Regions from separate parts of the Homo sapiens genome. Here regions 1 and 2 are each reported to be linked to region 3. The links are microRNA targets in miRTarBase. Many come from high-throughput screens and were not tested one by one. Region 3 holds a microRNA gene; each other region holds the end of a gene's coding sequence.
The links. The annotated mature microRNA hsa-miR-5590-5p reads UUGCCAUACAUAGACUUUAUU and lies in region 3 at 1,275-1,295, shown strand. An mRNA with a match to its seed (bases 2 to 7 or 8) in the 3' UTR can be bound and repressed. Matches are read on the target gene's strand: a 7mer-m8 pairs with bases 2 to 8, a 7mer-A1 pairs with bases 2 to 7 and ends in A, and an 8mer does both.

Region 1 (4,248 bases), not on the chromosome of region 3:
AATACCTTGTGGGTGCTGGCTGAGGGTGGCAAAACGCCTACCGAGACATGAAGGTTTTAGCCACTAGTTTTGTCCTTGGGAGCCTGGGGTTGGCCTTCTACCTGCCTTTGGTGGTGACTACACCTAAAACACTGGCCATCCCTGAGAAGCTGCAAGAAGCTGTGGGGAAAGTTATCATCAATGCCACAACCTGTACTGTCACCTGTGGCCTTGGCTATAAGGAGGAGACCGTCTGTGAGGTGGGCCCTGATGGAGTGAGAAGGAAATGTCAGACTCGGCGCTTAGAATGTCTGACCAACTGGATCTGTGGGATGCTCCATTTCACCATTCTCATTGGCAAGGAATTTGAGCTTAGCTGTCTGAGTTCAGACATCTTGGAGTTTGGACAGGAAGCTTTCCGGTTCACCTGGAGACTTGCTCGAGGTGTCATCTCCACTGACGATGAGGTCTTCAAACCCTTTCAAGCCAACTCCCACTTTGTGAAGTTTAAATATGCTCAGGAGTATGACTCTGGGACATATCGCTGTGATGTGCAGCTGGTAAAAAACTTGAGACTCGTCAAGAGGCTCTATTTTGGGTTGAGGGTCCTTCCTCCTAACTTGGTGAATCTGAATTTCCATCAGTCACTTACTGAGGATCAGAAGTTAATAGATGAGGGATTGGAAGTTAATCTGGACAGCTACTCCAAGCCTCACCACCCAAAGTGGAAAAAGAAGGTGGCGTCAGCCTTGGGAATAGGAATTGCCATTGGAGTGGTTGGTGGCGTGTTGGTGAGGATTGTCCTCTGTGCGCTAAGGGGGGGCCTGCAGCAGTGACAGCTTCAAGAACTTAACAGCCTTGCTCCTGAAGAACTGGCTGCCCAGGAAGCCAAGCTAGCTTTTTAGGGGAGTGTTCCAGCTGCTGGTAGTGGATCAGCTTAGAGGGAACACTCCCACAGCCAAAAGAATGAGTGGGAGAAATGGAGGGGACAATCTCCTGGGAGCTATGCGCAGTAACCTAACTTCCTTATGTCCCATGGATCTCTTCCTGATCTTCCCTGCCCATTGGGTACCCAGGAAACTGCAAGCATTGCCTGTGTTCCTGGGAAGAGTTCTAAGAAGCTTGCATTCATTTTCTACCCTTTATGACTTGGATGCCTCCCCACCTCCATTTCCCCTCTTCTGAGCTGTGTATTCATGTAGAGGGATGTATTCAGCCTTTTTAGTGAACATTTTTTTTCAATAAAAGTAATTCACAGTAGCTGTATGGAGACCTTTTTCTGCTCTTCAGTTTCTTGTATTTATTTAAATTGTCCCATAATCAGTCTGGCTTCATTTTCCTCAGGTTTCTTAGAATAGACATTAAACCAATTGTCTGCTTTTGGGGGCAGGGGGTGCAGTGCATAAGCCTATGGCAGGGGTTGTTAGTAATGACATCCAACTCAGGTGTGTAACAGTCACTAAATATTAACAAATTGCCTGTTCTGCCCAGGTAAATCCCCTGTTTGGTATTAAATTGAATTTCTTGGCAAAACACTAGATCCTTCACCTGGTAGGTTTCCTCTTACCATTCAGACAGCACCTTGGCTTGCCTCCACTCCAGTCCTTTTAGCTCTTTCAGTGCCCTGAAGCTTCTATTCCTGGGAGGGTCAAGTATTGGTTTCTTACAGCAGCCAAGGCCCCCAAAGGAGGATTAGTACTTTGATTCCTCCATAGGAAATCCAGTCTTAAGACTCCGAGGCCATTCGGACCGTGTCTGAGATAATTGGCTTGTGGAACCATCAGGGAAAGACTCTTGGCCACCAGCTGAGCTAATTCTACTGAGAGAATTACAACATTTCTTCCTCTCACTTTTCTCTGACTACAGGAGGTAGCAGAAACCAAAGACCAGCGATTCTCTAGATGTGTGTTAGAATCATCTGGATGACCTTGTGAAAAATAAAGGTTCTTGAGCTCTAATCCTGACAATGCTAATTCAGTTTAAATTATGGTCAAAGGATCTCTATTATTTATTTTACTTTTAACTTGTAAAAATTTCAAACCCATAGAAAAGCTGAAAGAAATGTTTGGTGACCATGCATAGAACCTTTACCAAAATTCACCAGGAATTAACATTTTGTCACAATTATCTTTCTCAATATAGATTGATTTTGTTAAACCATTTGAAAGCTAGTCACAGACATTGCAACTCTTAACTCTTAAACCATGTATGCATCTCCTAATAAGGATGTTCTCTGTAACCACAATATCTTTATCACACTAAGAAAATTAACAATTTCTGGCCAGGCGCGGTGGCTCACGCCTGTAATCCCAGCACTTTGGGAGGACGAGGCGGGCAGATCACGAAGTCAGGAGATCGAGACCATCCCGGCTAACACGGTGAAACCCCGTCTCTACTGAAAGTACCAAAAATCAGCCTGGTGTGGTAGCGGGCGCCTGTAGTCCCAGCTACTCGGGAGGCTGAGGCAGGAGAATAGTGTGAACCCAGGAGGCGGAGCTTGCAGTGAGCTGAGATTGCGCCACTGCACTCCAGCCTGGGCGACAGTGCAAGACTCTGTCTCAAAAACAACAACAAAAAATTAACAATTTCTTTCTTTTCTTTTTTTTTTTTGAGACGGAGTTTTGTTCTTGTAGCCCAGGCTGGAGTGCAATGGTGTGATCTCAGCTCACTGTAACCTCTGCCTCCTAGGTTCAAGTGATTTTCCTGCCTCAGCCTCCTGAGTAGCTGGGATTACAGGTGCCTGCCACCATGCCTGGCTAATTTTTTTGTATTTTTAGTAGAGACGGGGTTTCGCCATGTTGGCCAGCCTGGTCAAACTCCTGACCTCAGATGATCCACCTGCCTCGGCCTCCCAAAGTGCTGGGATTACAGGTGTGAACCACTGGACCTGGCCAAAATTTAACAATTTCTTAATCTTATATAGTTTATACAAGTTGAGCATCCCAAGTATGAAAACCTGAAATCTGTAATGCTCCAAAACTTGAAACTTTTTGAGTACCAACATGGTGCTCAAAGGAAATGCTTATTGGAAGAGCTTAGATTTCGGATTTCTTGGATTTGGGATGCTTAACCTATAAGTATAATGCAAAGATGCCAAAATCTGAAAAAGTCTGAAATCTGGAACATGTCTGGTCCCAAACATTTTGGATAAGGGATACTCAGCCTGTATTCACTTCTCAATATCCAAAATCTTAACAGCTTTTTAATTTCATTTTTGATCCAGGATCAAATAGAAGTTCATGTGTTATGTTTCTCTTAAGTATCTTCTTTTACAACAGACCTCCTGCATTCCTTTGTCTTTCATGACATTGATTTCGTTGAATAATTTACTCCAGTTGTCTTAGATAAGATTCCATAATTTGTATTTGCCATTTCCTCATGAGTAGATTCATGAGGAATGAATCTTAAACATTTTTGACAAGAGCCCTATGTAGATATGTACTTAACTGCACCACATTACAAGGCTCATGTTTTTGTTTATGTTTTTGTTTTTTGAGATGGAGTCTTACTGTATCATCCAGACTAGAGTGCAGTGGTGCAATCTCGGCTCACTGTAACCTCTGCCTCCCGGGTTCAAGTGATTCTGATGCCTCAGCCTCCTGAGTAGCTGGGACTATAGGCATGTGCCACCACGCCTATAGATGGGGTTTCACCATGTTGGCCAGGCTGGTCTCAAACTCTTGACCTCAGGTGATCCGCCCACCTCGGCCTGTCAAAATGTTGGGATTACAAGCGTGAGCCACCGCGCCCAGCCAAGGTTGACCCACTATTGATAATAAGCTTGATCATTTGGTTAAGGTGGTGGATGGCCAGATCTCACCACCAATGTGTGTGTGTGTGTGTGTGTGTGTGTGTGTGTGTGTATTTTCCCCTTTGTAATTCATAGTCTGTGGGGTAATACTTTATGATTATATGGCTCTCCAAAAACTCTTCACATATTTTGGCATCCATTGTTTTTGCCTTGTTGAACATTACATGTTGGGGACTGCAAACTGGCAATTCTTTATGTTCATCTTACCTATATTAGCCTGCATTTCTCTGTAAAGAAGAGCTTACTCTTTTTACCCTCTTTATTTTTGAGGTCTCAATAGATTCTTCTTATTCAGTGAGCTATATATAATCCATTATCATTTTATCTTTTTTTTAACTTTTTAGGTTTAGGGGTACATGTGCAGGATTGTTGCATAGGTAAATTGCATGTCATGGGGGTTTGGTGTACAAATGATCATTATCTTGATGTTCAAATTGTCCCCAATTTTGGCCAGTAGG
Region 2 (4,248 bases), not on the chromosome of region 3:
ATATTTAACTGTCTTGACAATACTCATGAGTATCTGCATGGCGACTTCAGAGTTGAGTTTAATCAAAGAGTTTATTCTTAGGTCCTAGTAGAAGAGCTAACCTCACACTCATCCCATTCTAAACTATGTGATTCAACACTGATTTTACATCCAACAAAGTGAAATCTTGATAGTTGGGTGTAAAAAGGAGAGTAATGGAGATTTCAGAGTAGTTGGGGTTGCTTACTTTTCATTTTTAATTCTTTAGGTTTTGTAAGTTACACACTTCAAGCATTATAGATGATCCTCTTTTTACTACTGAACTAATGAAGCCTTTTTCATTGCATTGTTCTGCATTTATTTCTACAGGGAGAAAACTGGTTGTCCTGGATGTTTGAAAAGTTGGTCGTTGTCATGGTGTGTTACTTCATCCTATCTATCATTAACTCCATGGCACAAAGTTATGCCAAACGAATCCAGCAGCGGTTGAACTCAGAGGAGAAAACTAAATAAGTAGAGAAAGTTTTAAACTGCAGAAATTGGAGTGGATGGGTTCTGCCTTAAATTGGGAGGACTCCAAGCCGGGAAGGAAAATTCCCTTTTCCAACCTGTATCAATTTTTACAACTTTTTTCCTGAAAGCAGTTTAGTCCATACTTTGCACTGACATACTTTTTCCTTCTGTGCTAAGGTAAGGTATCCACCCTCGATGCAATCCACCTTGTGTTTTCTTAGGGTGGAATGTGATGTTCAGCAGCAAACTTGCAACAGACTGGCCTTCTGTTTGTTACTTTCAAAAGGCCCACATGATACAATTAGAGAATTCCCACCGCACAAAAAAAGTTCCTAAGTATGTTAAATATGTCAAGCTTTTTAGGCTTGTCACAAATGATTGCTTTGTTTTCCTAAGTCATCAAAATGTATATAAATTATCTAGATTGGATAACAGTCTTGCATGTTTATCATGTTACAATTTAATATTCCATCCTGCCCAACCCTTCCTCTCCCATCCTCAAAAAAGGGCCATTTTATGATGCATTGCACACCCTCTGGGGAAATTGATCTTTAAATTTTGAGACAGTATAAGGAAAATCTGGTTGGTGTCTTACAAGTGAGCTGACACCATTTTTTATTCTGTGTATTTAGAATGAAGTCTTGAAAAAAACTTTATAAAGACATCTTTAATCATTCCAAAATTGTGTCCGTTTTCTTGAGCGTTTTGATTTTTTACTTTTAGCTTATACCAGCTGAATGGCAGCCTTGCCTAATCCACCTACAACAAGAATTTCTTAAGCTTTCTTTTATTTGCATGAGAGAGCCACTACCAAGGCATGTTTTGTTATGCTGAAACTGGGCTGCTGCATACTGCTAAATGGCACCTCTGGGATTGGCCTACCTGGGGATTTCTTGGTTTGTGAAAACAGGAGAGGAGAAATATCTCATACAAGTGAAAGGATACTGGAGAGAGAAATTACCCATTTCTAAAAAAAAACCACACTCTGTCGTATCTGTGTTAATGTTTTCTAGCATGTACTCTGGTTTCAACAGACACAAATTTATATGTTAACCCAGTTTTCTTGCCGTTCTGTAAGTGTTTTATTCTTAGTGTGATTTTTTTCCATTGGGATGTTTTTGATTGAACTTGTTCATTTTGTTTTGCTTGGGAGGAAAATAAACAATTTTACTTTTTTCCTTTAGGAGCATTATGAGCATTATGTCAGAATAGAATAGAATTGGGGTTCGATCTTAACAGGCCAGAAATGCCTGGGTTTTTTTGGTTTGTTTTTGTTTTTGTTTTTTTATCAAATCCTGCCTGACTGTCTGCTTGTTTTGCCTACCATCGTGACATCTCCATGGCTGTACCACCTTGTCGGGTAGCTTATCAGACTGATGTTGACTGTTGAATCTCATGGCAACACCAGTCGATGGGCTGTCTGACATTTTGGTATCTTTCATCTGACCATCCATATCCAATGTTCTCATTTAAACATTACCCAGCATCATTGTTTATAATCAGAAACTCTGGTCCTTCTGTCTGGTGGCACTTAGAGTCTTTTGTGCCATAATGCAGCAGTATGGAGGGAGGATTTTATGGAGAAATGGGGATAGTCTTCATGACCACAAATAAATAAAGGAAAACTAAGCTGCATTGTGGGTTTTGAAAAGGTTATTATACTTCTTAACAATTCTTTTTTTCAGGGACTTTTCTAGCTGTATGACTGTTACTTGACCTTCTTTGAAAAGCATTCCCAAAATGCTCTATTTTAGATAGATTAACATTAACCAACATAATTTTTTTTAGATCGAGTCAGCATAAATTTCTAAGTCAGCCTCTAGTCGTGGTTCATCTCTTTCACCTGCATTTTATTTGGTGTTTGTCTGAAGAAAGGAAAGAGGAAAGCAAATACGAATTGTACTATTTGTACCAAATCTTTGGGATTCATTGGCAAATAATTTCAGTGTGGTGTATTATTAAATAGAAAAAAAAAATTTTGTTTCCTAGGTTGAAGGTCTAATTGATACGTTTGACTTATGATGACCATTTATGCACTTTCAAATGAATTTGCTTTCAAAATAAATGAAGAGCAGCTGTCCTTCTTTCCTCTTTTAAGTGTTCAGCTGTGGCATGCTCAGAGGTTCCTGCTGGATTCCAGCTGGAGCGGTGTGATACCCTTCTTTTTCAGCTGTTCGTGCCTTCCTTTCTTGTATCCACCAAAGTGGAGACAAATACATGATCTCAAAGATACACAGTACCTACTTAATTCCAGCTGATGGGAGACCAAAGAATTTGCAAGTGGATGGTTTGGTATCACTGTAAATAAAAAGAGGGCCTGGGAATTCTTGCGATTCCATCTCTACTTTGTATAAGTCTCATTTTGTGCCTTACACATCTGCAGTATTTATCATGTTCCAACTTGGTGACTGTCAGGCAGTGCAATACATCAGCAGTTTATCACCGAAGAGCTGAGGAATACCTCCCTTAAAACAGACAATGTCGGCCGGGCGCGGTGGCTCACACCTGTAATCCCAGCACTTTGGGAGGCCAAGGCGGGCAGATCACCTGAGGTCAGGAGTTTGAGACCAGCCTGGCCAACATGGCGAAACCCCATCTCTACTAAAAATATAAAAAATTAGCCGGGCGTGGTGGTGCACGCCTGTAATCCCAGCTATTCAGGAGGCTGAGGCAGGAGAATCCCTTGAACGCAGGAAGCAGAGTTTGCAGTGAGCCGAGATGGCGCCACTGCACTCCAGCCTGGGTGACAGAGCAAGACAAAAAAAATAACAGATGATGTCATATGAAAATGTGCAATGTCCAGTTTTCCCATAGTTTTCTGTATTCTCTGTGTGCATAATCTGGAGTATGAGTCTGGGAAGAAAAAGGTTTTTAGTTTCATTTGGATAGTGGCCACCTCTCCATTCCCTACGAATGCTAGAATGAAGTTACTTTTTTTTTTTTTTTTTTTTTTTTTGAGACAGAGTCTTGCTCCGTCGCCCAGGCTAGAGTGCAATGGTACAATCTCGGCTCACTGCCACTTCCGCCTCCCAGGTTCAAGCGATTGTCCTGCCTCAGCCTCTGGAGTAGTTGGGATTCCAGGCGCCCACCACCACACCAGGCTAGTTTTTGTATTTTTAGTAGAGACGGGGTTTGGCCATGTTGGTCAGGCTGGTCTCGAACTCCTGACCTGAGGTGATCCACCTGCCTCGGTCTCCCAAAGTTCTGGGTTCACAGACGTGAGCCACCATGCCCACGTAGAATGAAGTTTCTTAAATACACTAGTTAATTATTGAAACATATGCAGTATTGAGTGCTCCTACACAAACACGCTCAGCCTCTGCCCCCAGTGTGCTCTGTGCTATCCACAGCCTTAGTAGAACATGAGGCTTTTTGTCATTTCACCAGTCATTCAATAATGACTCATTTGAGTATGGATCATGCACTAGCTAAATAACCAGTTGCGCTCATGTACCCTGAAGCAAATTGTTTAGCCTGACCCATGTGTAAGAAGATCACAGAGATTCCCAACCTTTCAGTGTCAAAAAGCCTTTCCATATATATTACTTTAAAACCCATTTTCCCCCATGTGTAATAGTCTATGTTAATGACGGTTCGGGTTTCTTCTACATTGTTTGTGACCTGAGAAAGTTTAAAAGAGCCTCAGTTTCTTTCATCTATAAAAATAAAAGAGATAGAAGGACAGTTTACCTAAGGAATAAATCTGGTAACATGTAAAGTACTGAAATAGGCTGGGTGCAGTGGCTCATGCTTATA
Region 3 (4,248 bases):
AAGTATGAGATGATATCTCATTTCTCAATGATTAGTGAAGTTGAACATTTTTTCTTATACCTATTGGCCATTTGTATATCTATTCTGAGAAATGTCTTTTCAGGTCCTTTGCCCCTTTTTTCACCCAGTTATTTGTTTTCTTGCCATTGAGTTCTTTGAGTTCCTTATATAGTTTGGATGGTAACTCCTTATCAGATATATGGTTCACAAATATTTTCTCCTGTTCCATAAACTGTCTCTCTACTCTGTTGATCGTTTCCTTTACTGTGCAAAAGGTTTTTAGTTCCTCCAGCTTTGTTCTGTTTGCTCCAAATTGCTTTGACTATTTGAGATCTTTTGTGGTTTACATGAAATGTATGGTTTTTTTTTCTATTTCTGTAAAAATGTCATTGGAATTTTGGGGGGCATTTTATTAAATCTATAGATTGTTTTAGGTAGTATGGACATTTAAACAATATCAATTTTTCAATCCACGAACATGGGATGTTTTTCCATTCGTCTGTGTCTTCTTTAATTTTTTCATCAATGTATTATAGTTTTCAGATCTTTCACCTTTTTGGTTAGATTCATTCCTAAGTATTTTTAAATACTATTTTAAATGGGATTGCCTAATGCTGGGAGCAGTGGCTTATGCCTGTAATCCCAGCACTTTGGGAGGCTGAGGCCGGTGGATCATGAGGTCAGAAGTTCAAGACCAGCCTGGCCAACATGGTGAAACCCCGTCTCTACTAAAAACACAAAAATTAGCCGGGCGTGGTGGCGCATGTCTGTAATCCCAGCTACTTGGGAGGCAAAGGCAGGAGAATTGCTTGAACCTGGGAGGCAGAGGCTGCAGTGAGCCGAGATCATACCACTGCACTCCACTCCAGTCTGGGCAACAGAACAAGACTCTATCTCGAGAAATAAATAAATAAATAATGGGATTGCCTGATATCTTTTGCAGATTGTTAACATACAGAAATGCTATGGGCTTTTATATATCAATTTTGTATTCTGCAACGTTACCCAATTTATTAGTTTAACAGTTTTTTGGTGGAATATTTAGGGTTTTCTATGTATAAAACCATGTTGTCTGCAAACAAAAACAATTTAACTTCTTTCATTCTGATTTAGGTGACTTTTGTTTCTTTTTCTTGCTTCATTGCTCTGGCTAGAACTTCCTTTATGATGTTGAGAAGTGGCAAAATGAGCCCCCTTGTCATGTTCCTGATCTTAGAGAAAAAGTTTTCAACTTTTCATCATTTTCACCATCAAGTATGATGTTAGCTGTGGGATTGCCATACATAGACTTTATTGTGTTGATCAACAATAAAGTTCATGTATGGCAATCCCACAGCTTTATTCCTTCTATACCTAATTTATTGAGGTTTTTTAAAGTCATAAAAGGATGTAGAAATTTGTCTGTATCTATTGATATGATCATATGTTTTCCTGAGAAAAAGTAAAAATAGAACTACTATATGATCCAGCAATTCTACTTCTGGCTATATATGCAGAGGAAATGAAACCAGTATGTTGAAGAAATATCTGCATTCCCATGTTCAATGTAGCATCATTCAAAATAGCCAAGATATGGAATCAATCTAAGTGTCCATCAGTGGATGAATGGATAAAGAAAATGTGGCATATATACATAATGGAATACTATTCAGCCTTTATAAAAAGGAAATTCTATCATTTACAACAACATGAATAACACTGAAGGATATTATGTTAAGTGAAATAAGCCAGACATAAAAAGACAAATACTGTACTTATATGTAGAATCTAAAAAAGTCTAACTCACAGAAGCATCAAGAAAAATGGTGGTTACCACAGGCTGAAGGGGTGGGGAGAGATTGAGAAGGTCAGAGGATATGAAATTTCAGTTAGACAGGAGGAATAAGTTCATATCTATTGCACAATATGGTGACTATAGTTAATAAAAATGTATTGTATACTTGAAAATTGCTAAAAGAATAGATTTTAAGTGTCATCACCTCAAAAAAAATAAGTATGTGAAGTAATGGACATTTTAATTAGCTTGATTTAGCCATTCCACAATGCACACATATATCAAAAGATAATGTTGTACAGCATAAATATATGCAATTTTTATTTGTCATTTAAAATGTATAAAAATTATTGCTGTGTACCCAGGCAAGCATGATGCCTGGTGGAAGAAGTAGCTCAGTACCAAATTTTGTGCTTGCTACCAGACTGACTTCTTTGCCCACCTCCTCCCACAGGTATTGACACTAGTGGGCCCTGCTCTGTTTGACAAATCATACACTGCCATTATCCATATATTGCTTCTCCATAAAATGAGAGGGTTGGACTAGGTGGTCTATCTCAAAGGTTCTTTTCAATTCTAAATGTTATAGAACTACCATTTTCCAGACGCTGGGCCATCCTCTTGTATCTAGTAGCCAGGGGTTCAGATCAGCAAGGTGATCAGCCATTCTCAGTCAGGCAGCCCAGAGAAACATAACCTCAACCTTGCTATCTCTGTGTCCAGCCATTGACGCCCACAGAGCACACCCCTTCAACTCTAGGCCAAAGAAAAGCATGAGGAAAGAAAGCTGATTTTTGTTAAATTACTGATTTCTACTTCCACAAGGATTAAGTAAAAATCTTTTCAAATATTAGGGAAGAAATACGTTCTAAAGCACATGAGGAAAGATTAGTCCAAGTGGTCTTAGGTTGCATTTTAGTAATGTGGGTTTTCTGCCCCAGGGAGAAGCAAAGTTGTTGAAAGATGGGAAAGTCTTCAGAGTGGTGCGAGAGAATTGCTGGGATCCAGAAGTTCGTATTAGAGAAATGGACCAAAAAGGTACGATGAGAAGTGCTACCAATGTTAGCATCTGATGTAAAAGCAATGTCTGCCCTTAAAGTTTGCTGACAACTTTATGTGATGGTAACTTCTGACCCCCTTTTCTCTGCCAGGACAGGCTGTTCCAGCTTCACTGTGGGAGGGACAGGGCCTTCCACTACAATGCTTTTAGAGTGTGGATTCAAAATGTTTCATATGAGTTATACCCTGTTTTAAAATAGAATGCTATATCATGAAAAAGATAAAAATGGCATTTTATTATTTTTAAAAATTAGTTCAAATGTATAGTATTTACTTATTATAAAATCAATTAAAATAGTAAAAACTGGAAATCACAAAACTAAGAATGACAATTGCCTGCTTAATAACACTTAAGATCCAATTTCTTTCTGTAGTTTGTCTCGGTGCATCATACACAGAACATTCCCACTGACACATCAGGGTTGGAAATGGAAGCAGTTAAAAATAGTTAATTGTGTAATCTCAGAATACACTACAATAAAATCAATCCAGAAATTTGAAAGAAGAGAATTAGGAAGTGTTCGTTTCAAAGCTGAATTGCTAAAAAGCTATAAGAACATCTTGCACTTTTTACCTTATATCTAAAAATCAAACAAGTCCTCACAATTTAAAAGAATTTCAGAAAAGGCACAGTAACAGTTTGGGAGGCCAAGGCAGGTGGATCACCTGAGGTCAGGAGTTTGAGACCAGCCTGGCCAACATGGCAAAACCCTATTTCTACTAAACATACAAAAATTAGCCAGGCATGCTGGCGCGTGCCTGTAATCCCAGATGCTCAGGAGACAAAGGCACAAGAATCGCTTGAACCCAGGAGGCGGAGTTTGCAGTGAGCCGACATTGCACCACCGCACTCCAGCCTGGGCAACAAAGTGAGACTCTGTCTCAAAACAAAACAAAATGAAATTTCCAAGTCTATCTAAAGTATGACATGATGGCCACATTATGCTTCACCTGTGACTGCCTGGTTGACTGTGCCACCTGAGGAGAACATGCTCCAAGAAAATGCCTGAGCCTTCCAGACACATGTGGGCTGTGTCCATGGGCTGTGATGGGGAACTGACCACCACTGACATTGTCAGAACTAAGTGTTTACATTGGTGGAAGATTTCAACCAGAAAAGAAACAATTCAAACACACAAATAAAAGAGCAGTTTAGCACTACCACCTTCCTAATCAAAGACAAATTGTAAGAAGTTCAAATATACAAAGAGATGGCAGGAGACATTTTATTCCAAGGTCTGCAAAAAAGGAATCAAACGGTCAGCCTAAAGTGAGTAGGTGGTCTCCAGCATGTTGGAATTTGTTGTAGATACCTTTGTCCAGGTTTTGCTTTATATATTTTTTAACAATTAAAAATAGAGCCAGGTGTGGTAGTTCATGCCTATAATCCCAGCATGTTAGGAGGCCACGTCAGG

Region 1: miRTarBase lists TMEM81 as a target of hsa-miR-5590-5p. The part of its 3' UTR that is shown has no 7-base or 8-base seed match.
Region 2: miRTarBase lists VMP1 as a target of hsa-miR-5590-5p. Seed matches in the 3' UTR shown: 7mer-A1 at 1,888-1,894.

Annotation. Positions count from the first base shown.
Region 1 is chr1:205,080,120-205,084,367 of GRCh38, reverse strand. It overlaps TMEM81 (transmembrane protein 81), which reads left to right. Exons shown (of 1, transcript NM_203376.2): 1 at 1-1,239. The coding sequence starts at 48. The coding sequence ends at 815. Among named protein-coding and RNA genes, the nearest start is that of TMEM81, 2.2 kb to the left of the region's middle.
Region 2 is chr17:59,839,420-59,843,667 of GRCh38, forward strand. It overlaps VMP1 (vacuole membrane protein 1), which reads left to right. Exons shown (of 12, transcript NM_030938.5): 12 at 349-2,836. The coding sequence ends at 492. It overlaps MIR21 (microRNA 21), which reads left to right and starts at 1,847; the gene lies at 1,847-1,918. RefSeq lists enhancers at 1-169, 893-1,622 and a silencer at 2,908-3,102.
Region 3 is chr2:134,856,546-134,860,793 of GRCh38, forward strand. It overlaps MIR5590 (microRNA 5590), which reads left to right and starts at 1,275; the gene lies at 1,275-1,328. It overlaps ACMSD (aminocarboxymuconate semialdehyde decarboxylase), which reads left to right. Exons shown (of 10, transcript NM_138326.3): 3 at 2,716-2,812. RefSeq lists a silencer at 2,380-2,580.